Regions from separate parts of the Homo sapiens genome. Here region 1 is linked to region 2. The links come from fine-mapping of genetic effects on gene expression. A gene starts in region 2. The other region holds a variant in brackets. All regions are shown on one strand. Distances are from middle to middle. Region 1 overlaps ZSWIM9 (zinc finger SWIM-type containing 9). Region 2 holds the start of LIG1 (DNA ligase 1).

What was found. PIP is the estimated chance that this variant, and not a neighbour inherited with it, causes the effect. A credible set is the group of variants that fine-mapping cannot tell apart.
Region 1: its variant is the best candidate, but not a certain one, in a credible set for the expression of LIG1 in whole blood (INTERVAL, PIP 0.86).

Annotation. Positions count from the first base shown.
Region 1 is chr19:48,184,455-48,197,769 of GRCh38, forward strand. ZSWIM9 (zinc finger SWIM-type containing 9) reads left to right here. Exons shown (of 4, transcript NM_199341.4): 4 at 10,199-13,166. The coding sequence ends at 12,373. Among named protein-coding and RNA genes, the nearest start is that of ZSWIM9, 20 kb to the left of the region's middle. RefSeq lists enhancers at 2,289-2,348, 12,060-12,572 and a silencer at 3,942-4,174. The variant T/C (reference allele first, on the strand shown) is at 9,776.
Region 2 is chr19:48,164,672-48,174,796 of GRCh38, forward strand. LIG1 (DNA ligase 1) reads right to left here and starts at 5,673. Exons shown (of 28, transcript NM_000234.3): 1 at 5,570-5,673; 2 at 879-952. The coding sequence starts at 895. It overlaps ZSWIM9 (zinc finger SWIM-type containing 9), which reads left to right and starts at 6,009. Exons shown (of 4, transcript NM_199341.4): 1 at 6,009-6,043; 2 at 7,123-7,406. The coding sequence starts at 7,132. RefSeq lists silencers at 5,112-5,181, 5,212-5,261, 6,062-6,201 and an enhancer at 5,155-5,814.

The sequences.
Region 1 (13,315 bases), 21 kb after region 2:
CTCCTCCTGGCTGTGCCTTTGTCTCCCTTGTGTGTGGAAGAGGTCCCAAGGCAGGGTAAAGTCGAGATTCAGCTCTGGCACACTCTTCCTGTCTTCATCTCATGCCCAGTAAGAAGCCCTGATTCAAGCCACCAGCCCAAGCCCAGGCCTCTGTCCCGACATAATAATAATTTTAGCTAATGTTTATCAAGCACTTACTATATGCCAGGCACTACCCTAAGTGCTTTACATACTATAACTCATTTTCATCTCACCTGAGCCCTATGAGGAAATAGTCCACCATTCTCATCCCCATTTTACAGACAAGGAAACTGAAGCACAGAGAAGTCAAGTAACTGGCTCAAAGTCACACAGCTATTTAGTGACAGAGCTGGGCTTCGGACCCACACAGCCTGGATCCAGACCCATGACCTTCACCATGGGGACAAACACACATGCACTTCCTACTCCACTGGTCTTTGCTGATCTAGTAACTCTCCTCCACTACCCACCATGACATAAATAAGCCTCAGCTGTTCTTCCCTGAACCCACCCTCTGCAGGATTGTCCCTGTGCAGAACAGCTCATTCATAGATCAGAGCCTTCCCTGGAAGGGGAGTTGTCTTTTCATTTTGAAGGCTGTCTTGGAATCTCGGCTAAACCACGGTTGGCTCCTGCGTCTGTGTTTTGACCTGCTTTCATACTTTTTTTTTTTTTTTTTTTGAGACGGAGTTTCGCTCTTGTCACCCAGGCTGGAGTGCAATGGCGGAATCTTGGCTCACCGCAACCTCCGCCTCCCGGGTTCAAACGATTCTCCTGCCTCAGCCTCCTGAGTAGCTGGGATTACAGGCATGCGCCACCATGCTAATTTTTGTGTTTTTAGAAGAGACGGGGTTTCTCCATGTTGGTCAGGCTGGTCTTGAACTCCTGACCTCAGGTGATCCCCCCGCCTTGGCCTCCCAAAGTGCTGGGATTACAGGCATGAGCCACCGTGCCCAGCCCCTTAATGCTCTTGAAAGAAAGGAGGAAGAAGTTCTAGGACAGGAGAGACAGATTAGTGAAGCAACATTTAAATATTTACTTTTTGAATATGTCATACATTCACATGGTTCTAAAAAAGGTATGTGGTGAAAAGTCTTATCACATCCTGTCCCCCAGGTCCCCTCCCCTGCAGAGTTATTAGCAGCTTATAAATCATATCTCGCTTTCTATCCTATGGACCAGCACTGCCCGGTGGAACTTTCTACAATGATAGAAATGTTCCTTATCCAGGCTAGGCATGGTTACTCACACCTGTAATCCCAGCACTTTGGGACTCTGAGGCAGATGGATCACCTGATGGCAGGAGTTCGAGACCAGCATGGCCAACATGGCAAAACCTGATCTCTACTAAAAATTCAAAATTAGCCAGGCATGGTGGCAGGTGCCTGTAATCTCAGCTACTCGGGAGGCTGAGGCACAAGAATCGCTTGAACCCAGGAGGCAGAGGTTGCAGTGAGCTGAGATTATGCCACTGTACTCTGGCCTAGGTAACAGAGTGACACTCTTGTCTAAAAAAATAAAAAGAAAGAAAATGGTTCTTATCTGTACTGTCCAATCCAGAGGCCACTGGCCACACATGGCTACAGAATGCTTAATGAGGCCAGTATGACTGAGGAACTGAATTTGTCATTTAATTTATCGAAATGTAAACAACCTAATGTAGCTAGTGGCTTCTGGATTGGACAGCGCAGCTCTGCACATATACAGGTCAATTTGCATGTCTGTATGTTTAACTTTAATTTTTAACTTTATTTCCTCTTTCTGCCCCGCCACCCCCCACCCCCAGCAAGCAGGGCAGCCTAGTGTACACGCTGTTTTTGTTTGTTTGTTTGTTTGTTCTTTGAGACAGGGTTTCACTCCTGTCACCCAGGCTGGAGTGCAGTGGCACGCTGTTGGCTCACTATAACCTCCACCTCCTGGGCTCAAGTGATTCTCCTGCCTCAGCCTCCTGAGTAACTGGGACTATAGGCATGCACCACCATGCCTGGCTAATTTTTGTATTTTTAGTAGAGACGAGGTTTCACCATGTTGGCCAAGCTGGTCTCAAACTCCTGACCTCAAGTGATCCACTCACCTTGGCCTCCTGAAGTGCTGGGATTACAGGTCGGGGCCACCACACCCGGCCTGTACATGCTGTTTTGCATCTTGCTTTATACGTTGGGGAGTGCCAGATGTCACCATCTTTCGTTCTTCCTCTGGGGCTGGTCAAATCCCCCTGAGAAAACTCCTCTGGCCTCCTGGCGGGGGGTGAAGGCCAGGCTGCCAGGGCCAGGCTGCCAGCTTCTGGGAGCTGCAGGGGCAGAGGCAGGGAGCTGTCAGGCATTCAGCCAGCAAGACGCACTCAGTACCCACTTGGGGTTCAGAATCCCCCTCCCTCATCTTCAGATGGGCCAGATGTCCCCAAAGCCAGCGGCCCCTTTCTGTTTCACCCTGTCTACAGAATAAACCCCCAGTCACTGGGGGTGGGGGAAGAGTAAGGGGAGAGGGGAAACGAGATTTGGAGGTCTAGCTGCTGCTGAAACAGCCCTCAGTTCGTCTTTATTTTGCCTTCTGCAAAACTGGCCTGGTGTTGCCAGCTCCTTTTGAGGACTTTGCTACCGGTTCTCAGCATCCCTCAATTGCTGGCTTAGGATTCATGGGTTTTTAGGGGTGGGGTGGGATTAGCATGTCCAGCTGCTTTCCAGTTTCCAAAGTTCTGTCCCTATCATATTGCCTCTGATTTAAAAAAAAAAAAAAGCCATTTTAAAAAAAAGATGTAATTGAGGTTCAAGAGAGAGTGAAACTAGAGAGGTGTTCAATCCATCACTTTTACACAGAAATTTCACCTTTTTTTCACTTATAAAATCTAATGAAAGAGTTCTATATTATTATGTTAATAATACAGTAGTAATATAACAGTATAATGTAATAATTAATATATTATATTAATTATATATTATAATTATATATTATATTATATTATATATATTATATATTATATATTAATTATATATATTATATATATTATATATTATATTATAATATATTATATTATATTATATATATTATATATTATATTATTATTATATTATATTATATATATTATATATAATATTATATATATTATATATTATATAATATAATATTATATATTATATTAATATTATAATATGTAACGCATAACATGTAATATTGATAATATAATAGGTGCGATGGCTCACACCTGTAATCTCAGCACTTTGGGAGGCCGAAGCGAGAGGATCACTTGAGCCCAGGAGTTCAAGACCAGCCTGGCCAACATAACGAGCACCTGTCTCTACAAAAAATTAAAAAAAAAAAAATTAGGCATGGTGGCATGCATCTGTAGTCCCAGCTACTCAAGAGGCTGAGGCACGAGGGTTGCTTGAGCCCAGGAGCTTCAGGCTGCAGTAAGCTATGATCACACCACTGTACTCCAGCCTTGACAACAGAGTGAGACCCTTTAAATAGATAGATAGATAGATAGATAGATAGATAGATAGATAGATAGATAGACAGACAGACAGCAAGCTTTAAATTTTCATCCCAAGCCTAGGTCAAGCAACAATCAGTCTTTCCACTTCCCAGCAGTCTTCCAAAGGAAGGATTATTTGTAAAAAGTGCCTGCACTTCCTGAGTTGGGTTGCTCTCTTGATCTTTGGAGGGGATCAGACAAGAAGGATGCGCCCAAAGCCACAAGGCATGATTTAAGGGCAAGACTGGGGGGCGACTTCACCCAGGGAGGTGTTAATACCTTTTTTTTTTTTTGAGATGGAGTCTCGCTCTGTCTCCCAGGCTGGAGTGCAGTGGCGCAATCTTGGCTCAGCACGACCTCCATCTCCCAGGTTCAGGTGATTCTTGTGCCTCAGCCTCTTGAGTAGCTGGGACTACAGGCGTGCGCCACCAGGCCTGGCTAATTTTGTGTGTGTGTGTTTTAGTAGAGATGGGGTTTCATCATGTTGGCCAGAATGGTCTCGATCTCCTGGCCTGGTGATCTGCCTGCCTCGGCCTCCCAAAGTGCTGGGATTACAGGCGTGAGCCACCGCACCCAACCTTTAACACCTTTTATCACCTGCCCTGCCTGATGATGATGGGCTTTGGGGTCCAGTCACATCTCCATTCCCTCACTTGTGGCAGGCACCAGGGTAACCAGCAAGCAAGCCCTGAAAAGAGAGACCTTGCCCGGAAACGTTGCAGCGTTCTCTTACGTGTATGCTTTGCCTTCTGAGAATGGCGAGCATTGATGCAAGTGTATCCCTTTTAAGAATACTCAATGGGGCCAGGCGTGATGGCTCACACCTGTAAGCCCAGCACTTTGGGAGGCTGAGGCGGGTGGATCACGAGGTCAGGAGATCGAGACCAGCCTGGCTAACATGGTGAAACCCCGTCTCTACTAAAAATACAAAAAATTAGCCAGGTGTGGTGGCAGGCGCCTGTAGTCCCAGCTACTTGGGAGGCTGAGGCAGGAGAATGGCGTGAACCCGGAAGGCGGAGCTTGCAGTGAGCTGAGCTCACACCACTGTACTCCAGCCTGGGTGACAGAGCGAGACTCCATCTCAAAAAAAAAGAATACTCCATGGGAAGCTGGTATGATCTCAGTGGAGGGCAATTTAGCAATATCTATCAAAATGACAAGAACACTCACCCTTAGGCTCACAATCCCACTACTGGTGATTTATCCTGCAGATGTAGTTGCACAGCTGTGGAAGGACTTACTTACAAGGTTAATCATTGTTGTTTGTGAAAGCAGCAGATTAGAAACAACCCAGACTCCACCAACGGGTAATGGTTACATAACTTGTGGTATATCCATCCATGGATTACTACACAGCACTAAAAAAGAATGAGAACTTTGGGAAGCCGAGGCGGGCAGATCACAAGGTCAGGAGATCAAGACCATCCTGGCTCACATGGTGAAACCCTGTCACTACTAAAAATACAAAAAATTAGCCAGGCATGGTGGCAGGCACCTGTAGTCCCAGCTACTCGGGAGGCTGAGGCAGGAGAATGGTGTGAACTCAGGAGGCGTAGCTTGCAGCGAGCCAAGATCGTGCTACTGCACTCCAGCCTGGGCGACAGAGTGAGACTCCATCCTAAACAAACAAAAAAAAAAGAATAAGAACAAGTCTAGGAACTATTTTGAAAGATCTCTCAAACACATTTTTAAGTTAAAAAAGCAAAATGCAAAACTGTACATAATATGCTGTATTATCTATAAAATAGAGCAAATAAGAATTATAGGTATGCTTACTTGTACTCATATAAAGAAACTCTAGAAGAATACCAAGAACTGTGGATGAGGGTAGAATAGTGAATGGAAACTGACTGATTAGACTAAAGAGGTGGGAGTAAGACCTTTTATGTATCGCTTTACATTATTTGACTTTAGGACCATGTGGATGTTTGCATATTCAAATAATTAATTCTTAAAAAGAAGATGAAAATAGAAGGTGGGCGCAGTGGCTCACACCTGTAATCCCAGCACTTCGAGAGGCTGAGGTGGGTGGATCACTTGAGGTCAAGAGTTTGAGACCAGCTTGGCCAACATGGTGAAACCCCGTCTCTACTAAAAATACATAAATTAGCCAGGCATGCTCGTGGGTGCCTGTAGTCCCAGCTACTCGGGAGACTGAGGCAGAAGAATCACTTAAACCTGGGGTGGCGGAGGTCGCAGTGAGCCGAGATCATGCCACTGTACTCCAGCCTGGGTGACAGATTGAGACTCCATCTCAAAAAAAAAAAAAAGAAAGAAAATTAAGCAATAGTCCCAACATACTAAACGCATTTGTTTCTCTCCTCAAAGGAAAAATTAGAGGGCGAGTTATAGAGGGTCTTGAGGTTGTGTGAGTCAGGATGGCCTAGGTTTTGCTGTAATAATGAACAGCCCTCAAATCTCAGTGGCTGAACTCATTGAATTTTATTTCTTGCTCACTTACACAGCCACCACGGGATGTTGGGGGAGTACTGTTTATCTGAGTCATTCTGGGACCCAGGAGGATGGGCATTCAGCCCAACGTAATTACCATATCTGGCAGCGGTGGCTGCGAAGGCTTCTCCTTGGATGCGATGCCGCAGCTCCCTCCCACTCACACTTGATTGGCCAAAGCAAGTCACATGACACTGCTTACCTGCAAGGGGGCAGGGAGGTGCAACGCTACTAAGTGCCCGGGAGAGGGAGAACTGCAATTTCTTGGCAAGCGGCAAAAGATAACCACAGGGTACTGTTTCATCAAGGGCCGCCCAAAGCCCTGTCTGAATATGGGGCTCGTGTTTCCCCTGCTATGTAGTTACACAGGCCTCCTGCAGCTTAGTTTCAGCTTTTCTAGTTTTTCATGGCTCCCAGAGGGAATATTTTCTATGCCGTATAGCCTGTTTTCACATGAAGCCATTTTGGGGTGTTATAGTAACAGCTGGTGACTTGATTTTATTTATGTTGCTATGTGCTGAAAGCTTTATGAATGTTCTGGCTGTGCCAGTTACTAGCTGTGGGACATGGAACAAGTTATGAACAACCTATTTACCTTCTCCAACCCTTAGTTCATTTATCTGTAAAATGGGGATAATACTATCTTATAGGGCTGTTGGGGTTGTTGTGTGAGAAAGTGCAGTGTGTATGTGTATGTGTGTGTGTGTGTGTGTGTGTGTGTGTGTGTGCAGAATGGGTAGAACCGTGCCCAGAAGTAGGAAGCCCTGCATATGTTCAATATTTAGCTATTATTTTGTTGTTGTTGTTTGTTTGTTTGTTTTTTTGAGATGGAGTCTCTCTCTGTCGCCCAGGCTGGAGTACAGTGGCACAATCTCGGCTCACTGCAGCCTCCGCCTCCCGGGTTCAAGCAATTCTCCTGTCTCAGCCTCCCAAGTAGCTGAGATTACAGGCGCGCACCACCACGCCCAGCTAATTTTTGTATTTTTAATAGAGGTGGGGTTTCACCATGTTGGTCAGGCTGGTCTTGAACTCCTGACCTCAGGTGATCCACCTGCCTCGGCTTCCCAAAGTGCTGGGATTACAGGCGTAAGCCACTGTGCCCAGCCTTAGCTATTATTTTTATTCCTTCAATTTTTTCTTTGGGGCAGTCTGGAGAACAGTTTCATGTGAACATTCTGATCACATGGAAAAGGGAAGGTTTACTCACGTGTCGGAAGAGGTGTGAATGGAAAGTAGTAAAGGCATGGTTTCTGATGTTCATGTTTGTGGAATCTGTCGTCTATGGCAGATGCTTCCCCGTGCTACCAATTTGTGTGTCTGAAAGGACACCCGTACATTCATCTGCATCCTCAAAATCTGTTCCTCCGTGGGTTTCTCCATCTCTGCAAAATGCACTGCTGTCCACTGTGTGCCTAAGCCAGCCCTGTTTGGTCAATTTTTTGAAGGCTGTAGGGTAGAGTGGTCAGGAACAAGAAGCCCTGGACCCAAGCTGTCAGGGTTCAAATCCCAGCTCACCTGGTATTGCAAATCGCATGGGTGACTCCAGGCAAGCAACTGAAGCCGTGTGTGCCTCGGTGTCCTCATCTGAAAAAGGGGAATGAGAATCATAGTATCTATCTTACAGGGATATTGTAAGGATGAAAGATTAGCTGTTGGAACTGTGCCTGGTGCAGAGAAACTACTTCATGTGTGCTTTGCACACCCGAAACCTTCTTTTTTATATTTATTTATCCTTGGCCTGGGGGCTGTCTCCTCTCACTCAGTGGTGTGTCTCATTTGTTCTCCTCTGTGCCTGAGCCAGCACATGGCACATCATATTTTCTCAGTAAATATCTGGCAGAAAAATGTATTCATCAGCCTGGCCAACATGGTGAAACCCCATCTCTACTAATAATACAAAAATTAGCCAGGCGTGGTGGCGGGCACCTGTAATCCCAACTACTTGGGAGGCTGAGGAGGAAGAATCGCTTGAACCCGGGAGGCAGAGGTTGCAGTGAGCCAAGATCACGCCACTGCACTCCAGCCAGGGCGACAGAGTGAGACTCTGTCTCAAAAAAAAAAAAAAAAAAAAAAAAAAAAAAAATATATATATATATATATACACACACACACACACACACATTTACATAGCCCCGCCTTCATCAAATGTCACCCTGCCCCTTAAAATGCCGCCCATGCATGTTCTCCCACCTACTGCTTTTGTTTCCAATCATTCCTAATGGCCCGGATCTATTGGATCCCAGCATCACTGCTTGTTAGCGCAGTGGCCTTGGGCAAGTCACTCCTCTGGTGCAGATGGGGGTCCCTAAGACCACCCTCAGTTTCCATGATTCACTAGAAGGAATCACAGAACTGAGAAAAATTGTTATAGTCAAGGCTACAGTTTATTACAGCAAAAGGATACAGAGTAAAATCAGCAAAGGCAAGAGCCACACAAGGCGACCCCATCAGTCTCTCTGATTCCTTAATTATCTAACAGCAGCACATAGGGCAGAGGCCAAGAGAGACCAGCATGAGCTGCCAGATGTCGTCTCTCAGTGAAGTCCCATGGACAGTGCTCAGTTCTCCCAGCAATGACATGTGACAACAATGATGTATTGCTAGCCAGGGACACTTACTTGGGCCTTGGTGTCCAGGGTTGTTATTGGGGTCAGCCATGTAGACTTGTGCTGAATACTGCTGAGAGATCGAGACAGACGGTAAGAACGGCTGAGAGCTGATGCACGCCAGGTGTCCTTCCATGCGTTGGCCAGGAGTGATCTCATTTTAGCCCATCCATGACCCTGTTAAATAGACATCTCCATTTTTCCAGACAAGGAACCAAGGCTCATTGAGGAGAGGTCACTTGCCTGAAGTCCCACGGCTAATAGGCAAATCCAGGAGTCTGATCCTTAAACCTCCACCCTTACAGATGTGGCCTTGGACATGGCTGCACACCCTCGCGTGAGTTCACTCACTCAGGATGTATTGAGCCATTGTTCCAGGGCAGGTAGCATTCAAAGCATCAGGGGTGCTGTTATAGCCAAGGCTACAGTTTATTACAGCAGAAGGACACGGAATAAAATCAGCAAAGGGAAGAGCCACATAGGGCAGAGGCCAGGAGAGACCATCCCGAAGGGGAACATCCCTGTGCTTGTGGGGCTTCCATCTTAAGGAGGGCAAGCAGGCAATGGGCAGATCAGGAAACGAAGATATGACTTGCCAAAGGGTGGTAAGTGCCATGGCCAAAAGGAGGCAGAGAGAGATGGGGTGTCTGCTTAGTTGGGAAGTCACAGAAGAGCGGGACGTGATGTTTGAACAGAGACGATAATTATAATGGCCACTTTCAGAACACTTACTATTTGTTGGATAAGTAATAACAGTAATATATGTACCAGGCAATGTTCTAAATGCTTGAATGCATCTCATCTTTCCAATCACAGAGATGCTCTTATTATCATCACTTTACAAATGAAAGGGAGGTTAGGGAAGTTGGCAGAAGGCACACAGCCAGGAAGCAGGGGCTCCAGGATCTCAGCCCAGGGATCTTGGCCTCAGAGGCTATGCTTTTCACCACTGTCCTGCCTCTCAGTGCATGGAGAAATGAATGTTCAGTGCCTAGAAGGGATAATCAGGGAATATGGAGGTTAAGGAGGCAACTGAGGCACAGAGAGGTTAAATCGCAGGGTTCAGAAGTGTTGGGGGTGGGACTCAAAGCTAAATGATCTGCCTCCACAATCTAAGCTCATTACCACCAGACCAGTCATCCTTAAGCATGCATAGGAGTCCCCTGGAGGGCTTGTCAAACTAGATTGCTGGGGCCCGCCCCCAGAGTTTCAGACTCAGTGGGTC[T/C]GAGGTGGCCCCGAGAAGGTGCATTTCTGTCCAGGTCCCAAGAACCGATGGTGATGCTGCTGGTCCAGGGCCCACATTTTGAGACCCACTGCCCTAGACTGCCTCTCAGCACACGGAGGAATGAATAGCCAGCTTCCGGCGGAGGAAACTGAGGCTCAGAGAAGCTAAAAGTGTCATGTGGAAAAAATCACATAGCCGTTAGACTGTGGTACCTGGATCTCAAACCCAGGCAATCCGGCTCCAGAGTGTTTTTAACCATTTCCCTGCACTGCCTCCTGCCGGTCAAAAGAATAAATGCATATGCAGGCAAGAATGAATGGGTGGTCCCATTTCCGTAGAAGGGGAAACCGAGGTCGGGGAGCTGGGCGGGGAGACCCCAGCATCCTCTGACCTCTTTCCTTGCCTCCCTGCCCCCGCCCGCAGGTGAAGCTGGTGTTCGTGGAGGACCAGGCTGTGGTGGAGACGGTGTTCTTCCTGACGTCGCGCACCAGGGCGCTGCTGCGGCGCTTCCCTCGCATGCTGCTGGTGGACCGGCTGCCGGGGCTGCAGGGCGCGCTGGATCTGCTGGCCGTGCTGTGCGTGGACGGCTCGGGCCGTGCGCGCCAGGCTGCCTGCTGCGTGGCGCGCCCGGGCACACCGAGCCTGCTGCGCTTCGCGCTCGCGTCGCTGCTGCAGAGCGCGCCAGACGTCAAGGGCCGCGTGCGCTGCCTCACCGCCGGGCCCGAGGTGGCGGCGCAGTTGCCTGCAGTGCGCCAGCTGCTGCCCTGCGCGCGCGTGCAGATCTGCCGCGCGCAGGGCCTGGAGACGCTCTTCAGCAAGGCGCAGGAGCTGGGCGGCGCCGGCCGCGAGGACCCGGGCCTGTGGTCGCGCCTGTGCCGCCTGGCTGGCGCGTCGTCGCCCGCAGCCTACGACGAGGCGCTGGCCGAGCTCCACGCCCACGGCCCAGCCGCCTTCGTGGACTACTTCGAGCGCAACTGGGAGCCCCGCCGCGACATGTGGGTCCGCTTCCGCGCCTTCGAGGCGGCCAGAGACCTGGACGCGTGTGCCCTGGTGCGAGGCCACCGCCGGCGACTGCTGCGTCGTCTCAGCCCCTCGCGTGGCGTGGCGCAGTGCCTTCGCGACCTGGTGGCCATGCAGTGGGCCGACGCGGCCGGGGAGGCGGTGCCCGAGGGGCCCGATGGCGGGGGGCCTTGGCTGGAGGATGAGCCAGGGAGGGGAGCCCAGGGGGAGAACGAGAGGGTGAGGGGCCTGGAGACAGGCGACTGGGGAGGGGCTCCGAAAGAAGGAAGTATTTGGAGGGGAGCCCAGATGGAGAAGGAGTGGGCAAGGGCACTGGAAACCAGAGACTGGGGCGGGGCTCAGTTCGAAGGTGAGAAGGGGAGGGCACTGCAGATCAGAGATTGGAGAGGGGGTCGGTTGGAGAATCAGAAGCCGAGGGGACTGGAAGGGGGTGTCTTGAGAGGGTCGAAGTTAGAGAAAGGGCACCTGAGAGGGCCAGAGATTAGAGACTGGAGGGGGCCCCAGTTGGAGGGTGAGAAAGATTGGGGACTGGAAGGTTATGTCTGGAGGGGGTCCCAGTTGGAGGACCAGGCGCTAAGAGGATTGGAAGGGTATACCTGGAGGGTGGCCCAGCTGGAAGATCGCAGGAGTACCACCGACCTGAGGGGGACCCAGTTTGACTATGAGAGGGTCAGGAGTCTTGAAGGAAGCCCCTGGAGGGGGGCGCAGCTGCACGATGAAAGGGCAGGGGGACTGAGAACTGCAGAATGGAAGGGGCCACAGTCAGAAGTAGAGAAGGGGAGGGGGCTGGAGGTCAGAAACTTGAGGGGGATCCCCTTGGAGAAGTCCCTGGAGTTGGCCCCTGAGAACGGAGACCAAAGGGGACCCCAGTGGGAAGATGAGAGGAGGAGAGGGCCAGAGATTGCAGAGGAGAGGGGAGCGAGGGTGGGGGTCAAAAGAAGAAGGGGCCTGGAGGATATAGTTCTGGTCCAGCTGGGAGACACGAGGGTCACAGGCATGGAGAATGGAGATGGAGGGGGAGCCCGGTCCGTGGGCCCCAAGAGCCGAGCCGGACGAGGGATGGAGTGGGGAGACGCAGGAGGGCGGTGTCTAGGGCTGGGGAATGGAGTCGTGTCTGGCACCCCGGTGGGGACTGTATTGGAAGGCAGCCCAGAATGGGCAGCGGCGAGGAGTGAACACCTGGCTGCAGGTGACGGCCTGCAGGAAGGAGGCGAAGATGGCCCCAGGGAACCAAAGAGGCTTTGCCGACCCCCGGGAGAGGAGGAGGTGGACTGGGAACCCCTGGCCAAATTCCGAGCAGCCTGCGGGCCAGAGCTGGCAGACCTGGTGGCTGAGGAGTTGGCCTTTGCTAGGCAGCATGGGACCCGGGGTTTCCACTGGACCGGAGCTGGCTTTGCCCTTAAGGACGGCACCTCGGACTTCTTCCTGGATGGGGCCCTGACACGCTGCAGCTGCTCAATTCACGCCGCCCGCCGTCTGCCCTGCAGACACCTCTTTGCAGCGCGCCTCCTCACTGGGGCTGCCTTATTCCACATGGACCTGCTCAGGGATTGCTGGGGGAGAGCCCCAGAGCCCTGACCCTTCATGCCTCTGCCCACCACCCTCCACCAGGAGGGTCGGAGGGCATTCTTCGATCCCAAAGATAATAGGGCTGAGGCCAAGGAGACCGTTGCAGTCCCCCTGGCCACCTTCTGGGTCATCCAGGGACCTCCTCATGGCAGTTTGCCTCTCTGGGTCCAAGGGCAAGCTGTAAGTGGTCTCTGAGGTCCTGGAGCCACAGCTTGGGAAGGTGTTGATGGGCAGGGTGGATTCTGAGGGCTTCCCTCTGGAGAGGAAGCATGTGATGAGAGGTGTAGACAGGGTCAGGCTGGGACAGAAGGAAGGAAAGGGGCAGAGCTGGGGGGAGGGGGAGGAAGCGATCATATGGGGAGTGTCTGGCAAGAGTAGACTGGCCAGTCTAGGGAGTGCAGCGGGGAGAGGGGAAAGGGAGAAAGTACAGAAGACAGATGAAGGAGAGGAGGTAAGCGAGAAAAAATGGAAAGGGGAGCCGGAAATGGAGGAGAGAGGACAAGCAAAGAGACAGAAATGAAGACATGAGGAAAAGCTGGGGGAAGCAGGAGAGGAAGGGACGGGATGTAGGAGGGGGAAGAAAAATCGGAGATGAGACAAAAGAAATGTGTGGGAGACGGGTAGAGACGAAATGCAAGGGGCGTGGTTTTGGTTTTTCTCCAAGACCTGGAGACATCGACCCCCATCGCCTTCTGAAGAGAGAGGGAGGGCGGGCACTGGGGGTCAGGAGAGTCTCCAGCAGGGGAGGGGAATTGTTTGGACTATTGTTCTTCAGGATTGGAATAAAACAATCTTATTTTGGTTTCCGTGATGAGTTCTTGGCTTCTGGGGTTGGTTGGGAGTCCCAGATCCAGGGAACAGTTGAGATGGTCCAGCGTTCCTTCATTCTTTCTACCGACAAGGCCTCCTGGGGCCAGATGGATAGAGGAGCCACAATGAATTCATCTCCAT
Region 2 (10,125 bases):
GACAGATTCCCAGGGAGGAAGTTTTGGCAACTGGATCGAACCAAGCCTGAGGCTGTTTACTCCAGCAGGTTTCAATGATATAAGTCAAGTCATGCCCTTTCTTGTCTTCCTGAAGCCGGACTGCATTAACACGAGGTTTCTCAACCTAGACACTATTGACATGTTGGGCCTGATGGTTCTGTGTTGTTGGGGGGGCTGTCCTATGAATTGAAGGATGTTTAGCAGCATGCCTGGCTTTTAGCCACTAGATGCCAATGGCAAACCCTCTGTCCCTAGGTTGTAACAACCAAAAATATCTCCAGACACTGGCCGGGCGCCGTGGCTCACGCCTGAAATCCCAGCACTCTGGGAGGCCGAGGTGGGCGGATCACGAGGTCAGGAGTTTGAGACCAGCCTGACCAACGTGGTGAAACCCCGTCTCTACTAAAAATACAAAAATTAGCCAGGCGTGGTGGCACGTGCCTATAATCCCAGCTACTCAGGAGGCTGAGGCAGGAGAATCACTTGAACTCATGAGGCGGAGGTTGCAGTGAGCCGAGATTGCGCCACTGTACTCCAGCCTGGGTGACAGAGCAAGACTCCAACTCAAAAAAAAAAAATCTCCAGACGCTGCCAGATGTTCCCTGGGGAGCAAAATTGCTGCTGACTGAGAACCACTGCGTTAGGGTTTCTGCTCCTTGCAACTAAAAACTGTTGTTCAATACACTGTCTTCCATATCCCACGGCTCATTTTCCATACTACTTGACTCCTGGAAATTCCAACTCAAAATCTAACGTAAGAGTTTTTGTTTGTTTGTTTGTTTTTTTAAGTACAGATTTAGAGAAAGAAACAGAGGACTTGGAGAAGGAAAGACTCAGGGGCAAGGGAGGGTGCTCACATGATACTTCGCTGCATGTTGGCGTCAGAATTCTCCCTTCCTGTCCAGCACTTTTCTTCGTCTGTCAGCTGCTCCTGGAACAGAAATCCAAACACTTGTTGAGGTGATTGGTTGTGCAGAGATCTAAACACACATAAAACCCTTTCTTTAAGAAAGAAAGAAAAAAAAAAACAGAAACATGAATTTCCCCTTCAAAAAGAAACTCCTGTTTTTATGAACCAAAATAATTTGCTGGTGAGATTTACTGGTGCAGAATAAAAGCTCCAAATCAGAGAAAAAGATAAGAGGCCTCCTTTACCATAAGAAGACTGTTTTTCATCTAATATGAGGAATAGACTGAGGACCTGAAATGGGTTTTTTTGGAGTTAAGTTTAAAGGTTAGTGAAAAATTGTTTTAAGGTGATGACATAATTCCGTGAAACAACTGTGGAAGCTTATAAAATTGTACCCGCTGGTCTACATAAATTAGCTCTTGGGCAGTTTCTAAGGTATGCTGTTATTTCAAACAAAGGGCAGAATATCACAGAGTGTGTGCTACTGAACTGTGTAAAAGAGAAAGGCTATAGGTCAGGCACAGTAGCTCACGCCTGTCATCCCAGCACTTTGGGAGGCCGAGGTGGGTGGATCACTTGAGGTCAGGAGTTCAAGACCAGCCTGGCTAACATGGCAAAACCCTGTCTCTACTAAAAATACAAAAATTAGCCAGGTGCGGTGGCACGCGCCTGTATTCCCAGCTACTCTGGAGGCTGAGGCAGGAGAATCGCTTGAACCCGGGAGGTAGAGGCTGCAGTGACCCGAGATTGTGCTACTGCACTCCAGCCTGGACAAGAGTGAAACTCCATCTCAAAAAACAAAAACAAAAGAAAGACTATAAATGTATCCACATATCTTGTATATGTACAGAACATCTCAGTTGGAAGACAAAAAACTGGTAATGCTGTCGCCTCAGGAGGGACAGACGCTGGAGGGAGATTTTTTAATATGCATGCTTTTGCAGGCAGAACAATTGGAATACGTTACCCCTTCACAATATATTTTTAAAAATTAAATACTTTTTTAAAAAGTCTGTTATTTAATGAAATCAATAACAGTCACTGGGGCTTCCACAGTTTAGAGTAACTCTAATGAAAGGGTTCCTAGGCCGGGCGTGGTGGCTGCTGCCCATAATCCCAGCATTTTGGGAGGCCGAAGCGGGTGGATCGCCTGAGGTCAGGAGTTCGAGACCAGCCTGGCCAGCATGGTGAAACCTCATCTCTACTAAAAATACAAAAATTAGCCAGGTATGGTGGTGCACACCTGTAATCCCAGCTAGTGGGGAGGCTGAGGCAGGAGAATCACTTGAACCCAGGAAGTGGAGGTTGCAGTGAGATCATGCACTCTAGCCTGGGCAACAGAGTAACACTCTGTCTCAAAAAAAAAAAAAAAGAAAGAAAAAGAAAGAAAAAGAAAAAGAAAAGAAAGGGTTCTTAATCTGGGGTCCACAAAACCCAGGAGTCCAAGAGCAGAACTCAAGTGGTCTATGAAATTTGACAGGAAAGAAATTACGACTTTATTCTTGTAAACTTCTAATTGGAACTGAGCCTTTCCTTCCATTATAAATATTAAAGATATAAAAAATTATAAATTTTCTATATCTTTAATATTTATAATGGAAGAAAATAAATTACACATTATAATTATGTAATTATAATTATTTACATTATATTTCCTTCCACTATGAATATATTTTTTAAAAAAGGACTAGCAGGACCTCTGCGTGGATTGCTTGAGTTGAGACCAGCTCAGACCAGCCTGGGCAACAGAAATGGTTTTCTTTGACTTTCCCTTCCTTTGCACAGAAATCTTCTTCAACCCATGGGGTCCCCTTTCGTTTTCTGGAATCAGTACTCTCTGTCCCGCACCACACGCCTCTAAGTCTCCACTACTCTCTACAGCCTTGGCCGCCACATGTTGGCACCACAACTCAAACTCAATTTTGGAATCAAAAAACTCAGTAGGCCGGCACTGTGGCTCACGCCTGTACTCCCAGCACTTTGGAAGGCTGAGACAGGCGGATCACGAGGTCAGGAGTTCAAGACCAGCCTGGCCCGCATGGTGAAACCCCATCTCTACTAAAAATGCAAAAAATTAGCCAGGCATGGTGGTGCCAGCCTGTAATCCCAACTACTCAGGAGGCTGAGGCAGGAGAATCACTTGATCCCAGGAGGCAGAGGTTGCAGTGAGCTGAGACTGCACCACTGGACTCCAGCCTGGGCGACAGAGCGAGACCCCGTCTTAAAAAAAAAAAAAAAAAAAAAAAAACAAACAAAAAAGAAACTCAGCAATTTCCAAACAGAGTTTCTCAGGGCCAGTTGGGGAGCAGGAAGTAAGCAATGCTTCAACCAAACAGTTCACACAGAAAGCAGGTTAGGGACTTAGCCACCAAAATCCTGAGGGCAAAGGAGAAAACTATTACGATCCCTCCTGAGTGCTCAACTGCCTAGGTACTTGACATTCTCAATTATACTGACTCTCCACAACAACTCTGTTACAGAAACTAAGGCACAGAGGGGTTTTCAAAGGAACTTAACCTGCATCTATAGTACGTTCCACCCCAGGTCGGCCTGCTCCACAGCTCACCTCTTAACCACCAGACTGAGTTGCAAGGGAAGGAGAAATACATAAGCGTTTACTGGGAAGCCTACTCTATGCCTGACAGGCTGATCACATTCTCAAATACCCTCAATCCTCAAGTCAGCCCTCCAAGACAGGTGAGATCATCCCCACTTTATAGATGAAGGTAATGAGGACAGAGGAACATAGCTGGGGTTCAGGCAAGGCTTCAAAACCCGGTGTGGCTGGCTCCAAAGCCCACGTTCCTTTCTCCTTACCACGGTACTCAAGGCTGGCTTCTCAACTCTGTGTACTGCTGAGTTGGGGGGAACAAACTGGTTGATGCCTCTGGAGGACCACCTGGCGTCTCTATCGGAACGGCAACCCCACTTCTGTGTATTTGGCCCACAGAGACCCTCACAGGTGGACCAAGTGAGGCACAAAGTTACCTGCTGCAGCACTAACTGTAATGAGAGAAGACTGGAAACTGGTGGAATGTCTACCCTTAGGGAACTGGTTCCCTCATTACTGGAATACCATATGGTAGAATATTGTTCAGGGTTAAAATTAAATGAATGATGGATAAAAGGTATAGGAGTTTTTTGGGGGGATGATAAAAATATCCTAAAATCGATTATGGTAATAACTGCACAACTCAGCGCATACACTGAAAACCACTGACTTGTACACTTTAAATGGGCACTTTAAATACACTGAAATACACTTTAAATACACTGAAAACCGCTGACTTGTACATTTTAAATGGGCAAAATTGTACACTTTAAATGGGCAAACTGTATAATTGTGAATTATATCTCAATAAAGCGGTTACCAAAATGAAGAGATAATGACAGGAAAAATATCAAGTAAGGATGAAACAGTACTCAGTAATAAAAAGAAACGAAGCACTGATACAAGCAACAACTTGGGTGGACCTCCAGGGCATTGTGCAGAGTAGAAAAAAGGTAACATCCTAATAATATATGATTCCATTTACATAACAATCTCCGAATGACAAAACTAGAGATGGTGAACACATTAGCGGTTGCCAGGGGCCTGGGGAGGAGTTCTTATGTGGAGAGGGAACTGTTCTATATCACAATTACGATGGGGGTTACACAAATCTATACAAGGAATCAAGCTGCACGGGCACACAGATGCACAATCACACTCACACCACACAAACTGGTGAAAACTGAACAAGGTCTGTAATCTAGTTAACAGAACTGTATTGATGTCAATTTCCTGGTTTCGATATTGGGACTACATAAGATGTCACCATTAGGGGAAGATGGATATACTCTTTTCACAACTTCCTTGAATCTATAATTATTTCAAAATAAAAAGTAAAAACAAGAGGTAAGCTCCATCCCTTTATCAAGCATACATTAGGCCAGACGTCTCCCCATTCAGATGATTCTCCATCTTTTACGAGCCCTTTACCTAGACCTGGACCTTACCACTGACCTCTCCCTGACACCACCCATCTCCCTCCAGTAGGGCCCACTCCTTCCAGGTGATGCTGCTGCCCGCGATTTACCTTCTTCTAGCCCCGCCCCCTCAGCACTTCCAGGTGGCCCCCGCCCCCTCAGCACTTCCGGTTCCCAGCCAGCCCCACCCTTGGCACCTCCCCCTTCCAGGTGGCCCCGCCCACACGCAATCTTTTCCCCGGCCCCGCCCCTTAGCTCCCTTCAGCCCCTCCCCCTCCCAGATAGCCCCGCCCCCTCGGGGGGCCTTCCGATTTCCAGCTGGCCCCGCCCACACAGTTTTCCCCCCCCCGGCCCCGCCCCTCAGTTCCATTTGGCCTCTCCCCTTTCCAGGTGAACTCGCACCTCAAGGCCTCTTCTCAGAGGACCTGTCCAACTGTCTCTGTCTCTCGTCTACCCTCTACCTGGCCCCCCTCCCTCTGGGAGACACCTCTCTGCACTCTCCGGCGGCCCGCAGCCCGCGCTCTTCCGTCTCCACCGCGCTCTCGGCAGCCTCAGCGTCCCCACGCCCACTCCTCTGCAGACACCCCGACATGGCGAAGCATAGGCCCCAAGCATTCGGCGCACCCGCCGCCCTCCGCCTCCCATCTGCTTGCGGACGGCCCCACTTGCCTTGCGTTGGTCCCGCGCGCCGCTGCCCGGGCAACACACTCAGATCCGCCAGGCGCGCCTCTGCAGTCCCAAGTTCGCGCCACGGCATTCGCGCGCAGACGTCTGCGGGCGGGGGCGGGGCAGAGCCTAGGGGCGGGACCTGGGCACCGTCCGCACCGCCGCCGTCGCGCGGAGGACACTGGGAGTCGTAGTCTCCCGAATGGGAGGAGGGCGGGAAAAGGGGTGAAGTGGGGCGAGCCCTCCCGCAGAGCACACTGGGAAAATGCCCGCGCTTTCCCTCGCCCTGGATGAGCGGGTGTGGCTGAGGGTCTGAGGAGTGACTGGCAGGGAAAGAGGAGGAATCGGTGGAAGCGCCCCCGCGAGGCACGGCGGGAAGAGAGGCGGGAGACCGCGCGGGGCATCCCGGGAGCAAGGGCCGGGCCAGGCCTGGGCGCGGGGCATTGTGGGAGGTGGACGCCGCTCCGGGGCGGGTAGGTGAGTGGGGAGGGGCGGGAAGGGTGCACATCTTGGGGAGGGGAGAGGCACAGCTAGGTGGGACGGCGGGGCTGGAAGGTGCCGCAGCGGGCGGGGAGGGGGGGAGTAGGAGGGTCGGGAGCGGGCTGGATGGGGCTGCTCGAGGGGAGACGCGCAGCTGGACGTGGGGGGAGCATCTGGGGTGAAGGAGCCCATCCGAGGACGAGGGGCCATGTCTAGAACGAAGATGCATATTGCGGGGGATGGTGGATGTAACTGGGAGGAGGGGCCCACAGCTGGACTGGGGGCCGCATCTGAGGAGGAGGGGACCACAGGTGAATACTGGTGACACTTCCGAGGAGAACTAGCCACAAGTGGGGCACACACCTGTAGGCGAAGCGTGGATAACTGCATGTGGGGAGTACATCTGGAGATGAGAGTGTCTCAGGGAAGCCCCAGCTACAGCTGCATGTGGCGAGCCATAGGGTCATAATCGGGGGAAGGGGCAACAGCTGCACGCCAGAGGCACATCTGGGGAGTGCGGAGCCACAGGTGCATGAAGCATGTGACCGGGTGAGGGGTCCGTGGCCTGGATGTGGGAGCACATCTGGAGATGGAGCGTCTTTGGAGGGGTTACAGCCAACTGTTGGCACATGGAAGGAGGAGTTCCAGATGAATACGAGAGTTAGAAGTTACTCTTGGGTGAGAGACACAGCTGGAAGGGGAGGAGGTTTTAGCTGGAATTTGAGAACACATTTGAGGAGATGTCCTTAAGGGACATCTGAGCTTAAGGGTCGTATTTTGGGAGGAGAGATTCCAACTGTACCTAAGGGTCACATCTGCGGAGGAGGAGACGAGTTGGAATTAGGAATCAAGATGACAGGCTCCAAGTGAACCAGGGATAAGGCGGTGGGAGGAGGCCAAAGATAGGATGGAGGTTGATATTTATATATTTGGAGAAAAACAGGCACGTCCGACCCCGGGCTACCCACCTCGATAGAGGCACCAGCAACCGACGGGGCAGGCCAAGAATGGAGTAGATGAGATACCCCGGGTGGGAATGGGTCTGATATCCACCTGTTCTCCCCTCCTCCACGCAGGCCCCCAGGATGGAGCGGCCGGAGCCCCCACCCGGCACGGCTGCGGGGCAGGAGGAGCAGGAGCTGCGGGAGCGGGCCTTCTTCTCGTGGGCCGAGTTCAGCCGCTTCTTCGACGCGTGGTGCCAGCAGCGGCTGGCGCTCTTCTTCGTCAAGAGCTCCATGCACCTGGCGCGCTGCCGCTGGGCCAGTGCGCCCCCGCTCTACACGCTCATCGACGTGCTCAAGTACAGCTACGTGCGGCTTGTGTGCAAGGACGTGCGTGCGCCCAGCCGGCCCGCCGTGGGGTGCGTGAACCTGAGCCGCTGTCCTGCTGGGGGGAAGGGGAGCACCGGGGGTGGGTGTGGGTGGGAGACGGGCAGAGAACACCCCACCCAGAGATGCAGAGGGGGAGAGGCCAACTGAGGCAGCCAAATACACCTTGCAGAGAGGCGGGAGTCAAGGAGGGACATGTACTGAGAGAAGAAGAGGAGCTAGAGAGACAAAGATACTCACGGAGCAAGAGATGGTGTGGGCCCGACTTACAGACTTTTTTTTTTTTTTCGAGATGGAGTCTCGCTCTGTCGCCCAGGCTTGAGTGCAGTGGTGCCATCTGCAGCCTCCACCTCCTAGGTTCAAGTGATTCTCCCGCCTCAGCCTCCCGAGTAGCTAGGACTACAGGCACCTGCCATCATGCCCGGCTAATTTTTGTGTGGTTTTTTGTTTTTGTTTTTGTTTTGTTTTGCTTTGTGTTGTTTTTTTGAGACAGAGTCTTGCTCTGTCACTCAGGCTGGAGTGCAATGGCACAATCTCGGCTCACTGCAACCTCCACCTCCCGAGTTCAAGCGTTGTTTCTCCTGCCTCAACCTCCTGAGTAGCTGGGATTACAGGCACGCGCCACCACGCCTGGCCAATTTTTGGATTTTTGTAGAGATGGGGTTTCACCATGTTGGCCAGGCTGGTCTCAAACTCATGACCTCAGGTGATCTGCCCGTCTTGCCTCCCAAAGTGCTGGGATTACAGCCGCGAGCCACTGTGCCCGGCCTGACTTACAGAATGTAATAGAGACTTCGAGAGGCAGAGCGTAAAACACACACACCCCAAGAGGAGAAAATAGTCACGGAAAATTCCAGAAACATGGAGACATGGAGGCAGAGACACCAGAGACAGCCAGGGAAACAGAAGAGCCAGGTTTTGTACACGTGACAAAGACTGGGAGACAGAGACTGGGAGACTGAACTGCAGAGAAGCCGCAGGATAAAGAAAAGGATCCATCTATTCAGTGAATAAGGGGCCAGGTCCCATGCTGTGGGCTGGGGATATTCTAGTTGGAGCGATGGAGTTGGGCAAGAGACAAAAATCCCTGCCCTTCTGGTACTTTCTGACTGGACAGAAAGATTGACGTTAAAAGAACAAGCTCACAGGTAGTTCCCTACAACTGTGCAAAGAGGGGCAGGTGAGAAATCCAGGAGAGCCAGAATCACACCCAGGTGGCCAGGGGTATTTTAATGGACCCCAATTGTATTTTATTTAGTCTTTATTTTTTTGAGACAGGGTCTTACTCTGTTGCCCAGGCTGGAGAGCAGTAGTGCGATCTTGGCTCCCTGCAACCTCCAACTCCTGGGTTCAAGAGATTCCCCCACCTCAGCCTCCCAAGTAGCTGGGACTACAGGTGTGTGCCACTATGCCCACCTAATTTTTGTATTTGTAGTAGAGATGGGGTGTCACCATGTTGGCCAGGCTGGTCTCGAACTCCTGACCTCAAGGAGGCTGAGGTGATCTGCCCACCTCGGCCTCCCAGAATGCTGGGATTACAGGCATGAGCCACCACACCCAGCCAAATTGACCCCAATTTTATTTTACTTTATTTTATTTTATTTTATTTGAGACGGAGTCTTGCTCTGCCATCCACACTGGAGTGCAGTGGCACAATCTCCACTCACTGCAACCTCAGCCTCCTGGGCTCAAGCAATTCTCCTGCCTTAGCCTCCCCAGTAGCTGGGATTACAGGCATGCGCCACCATGCCCAGCTAATTTTTGTATTTTTAGGGTTTCACCATGTTGGCCAGGCTGGTCTTGAACTCCCGACCTCAGGTGATCTGCCTGCCTTGGCCTCCCAAAGTGCTGGGATTACAGGTGTGAGCCACGGTGCCTGGTCTGACCCCAGTTTTAAACAGGGGTTGTTCCCCACACAGTTAGGTTTCCAGCTTCCACTGGAACACCGGAAGAGGTGAGCCCATGTTTCCATTGGCAGACGGCCACCCCTCTTGGATGGGGCTTTGCTGCCCAGGTTTGCCCCAAACCCTGCCACTCTCTGCTGCCTCATCCCTAGCACTGTCTTTTGCTTGTTTTGCCTGCCTGGTCCCAGTAGGTGTGTGAGTTTGAGACCCTTGGTTGGGGAGCTGTAGACAAGAACAGAGTGCTTAAGAACACAGGCTCTGCCTTTAGGCTGCCTGAGACATGCTCCACGACTTCCTGGATGGGTGACTTTGGGCAATGGACTTCACATCTCCAAGCCTCAGTTTTCTCATCCTTTGAAATGGGGTTATCACGATACCCGCCTCATGGGGCCATTGTGAGGATACTGTGAGATCATACATGAGAAAAACACATAACCCTGGTGCCTGGAACATGGGGTGGCTGGTTAAGTGATAGCTGTTACAGGATTCGAGAGCATGGACTCTGGGCCATTGTGCTGCTGATGCTTGGTGGATGCTGTTGAGTGAGTGACTTCACCTTTCTGTGGCCTCAGTTTCCTCATGTGGAAAATGGGAGACATAATAGTGTCTATCTCATAGGTAAATTATTCAGAAAGGCATCCAGCACAGAGTAAGCACACTCTTAACAGCTCTTTCACCGGTAGTTATTTAAACATGTATTGTGAAATACATTCTTGCAACTTCTTTCTCACTACTTATTCTAGAAACAGAGACTCGGAGATCTGAAAGTGGAACAGCATCAAACACACACATCACCCAGAAACCTAGAACGTTAGAGCTTGCAAGAAGCTCAAAGAAGCTCAGGCCT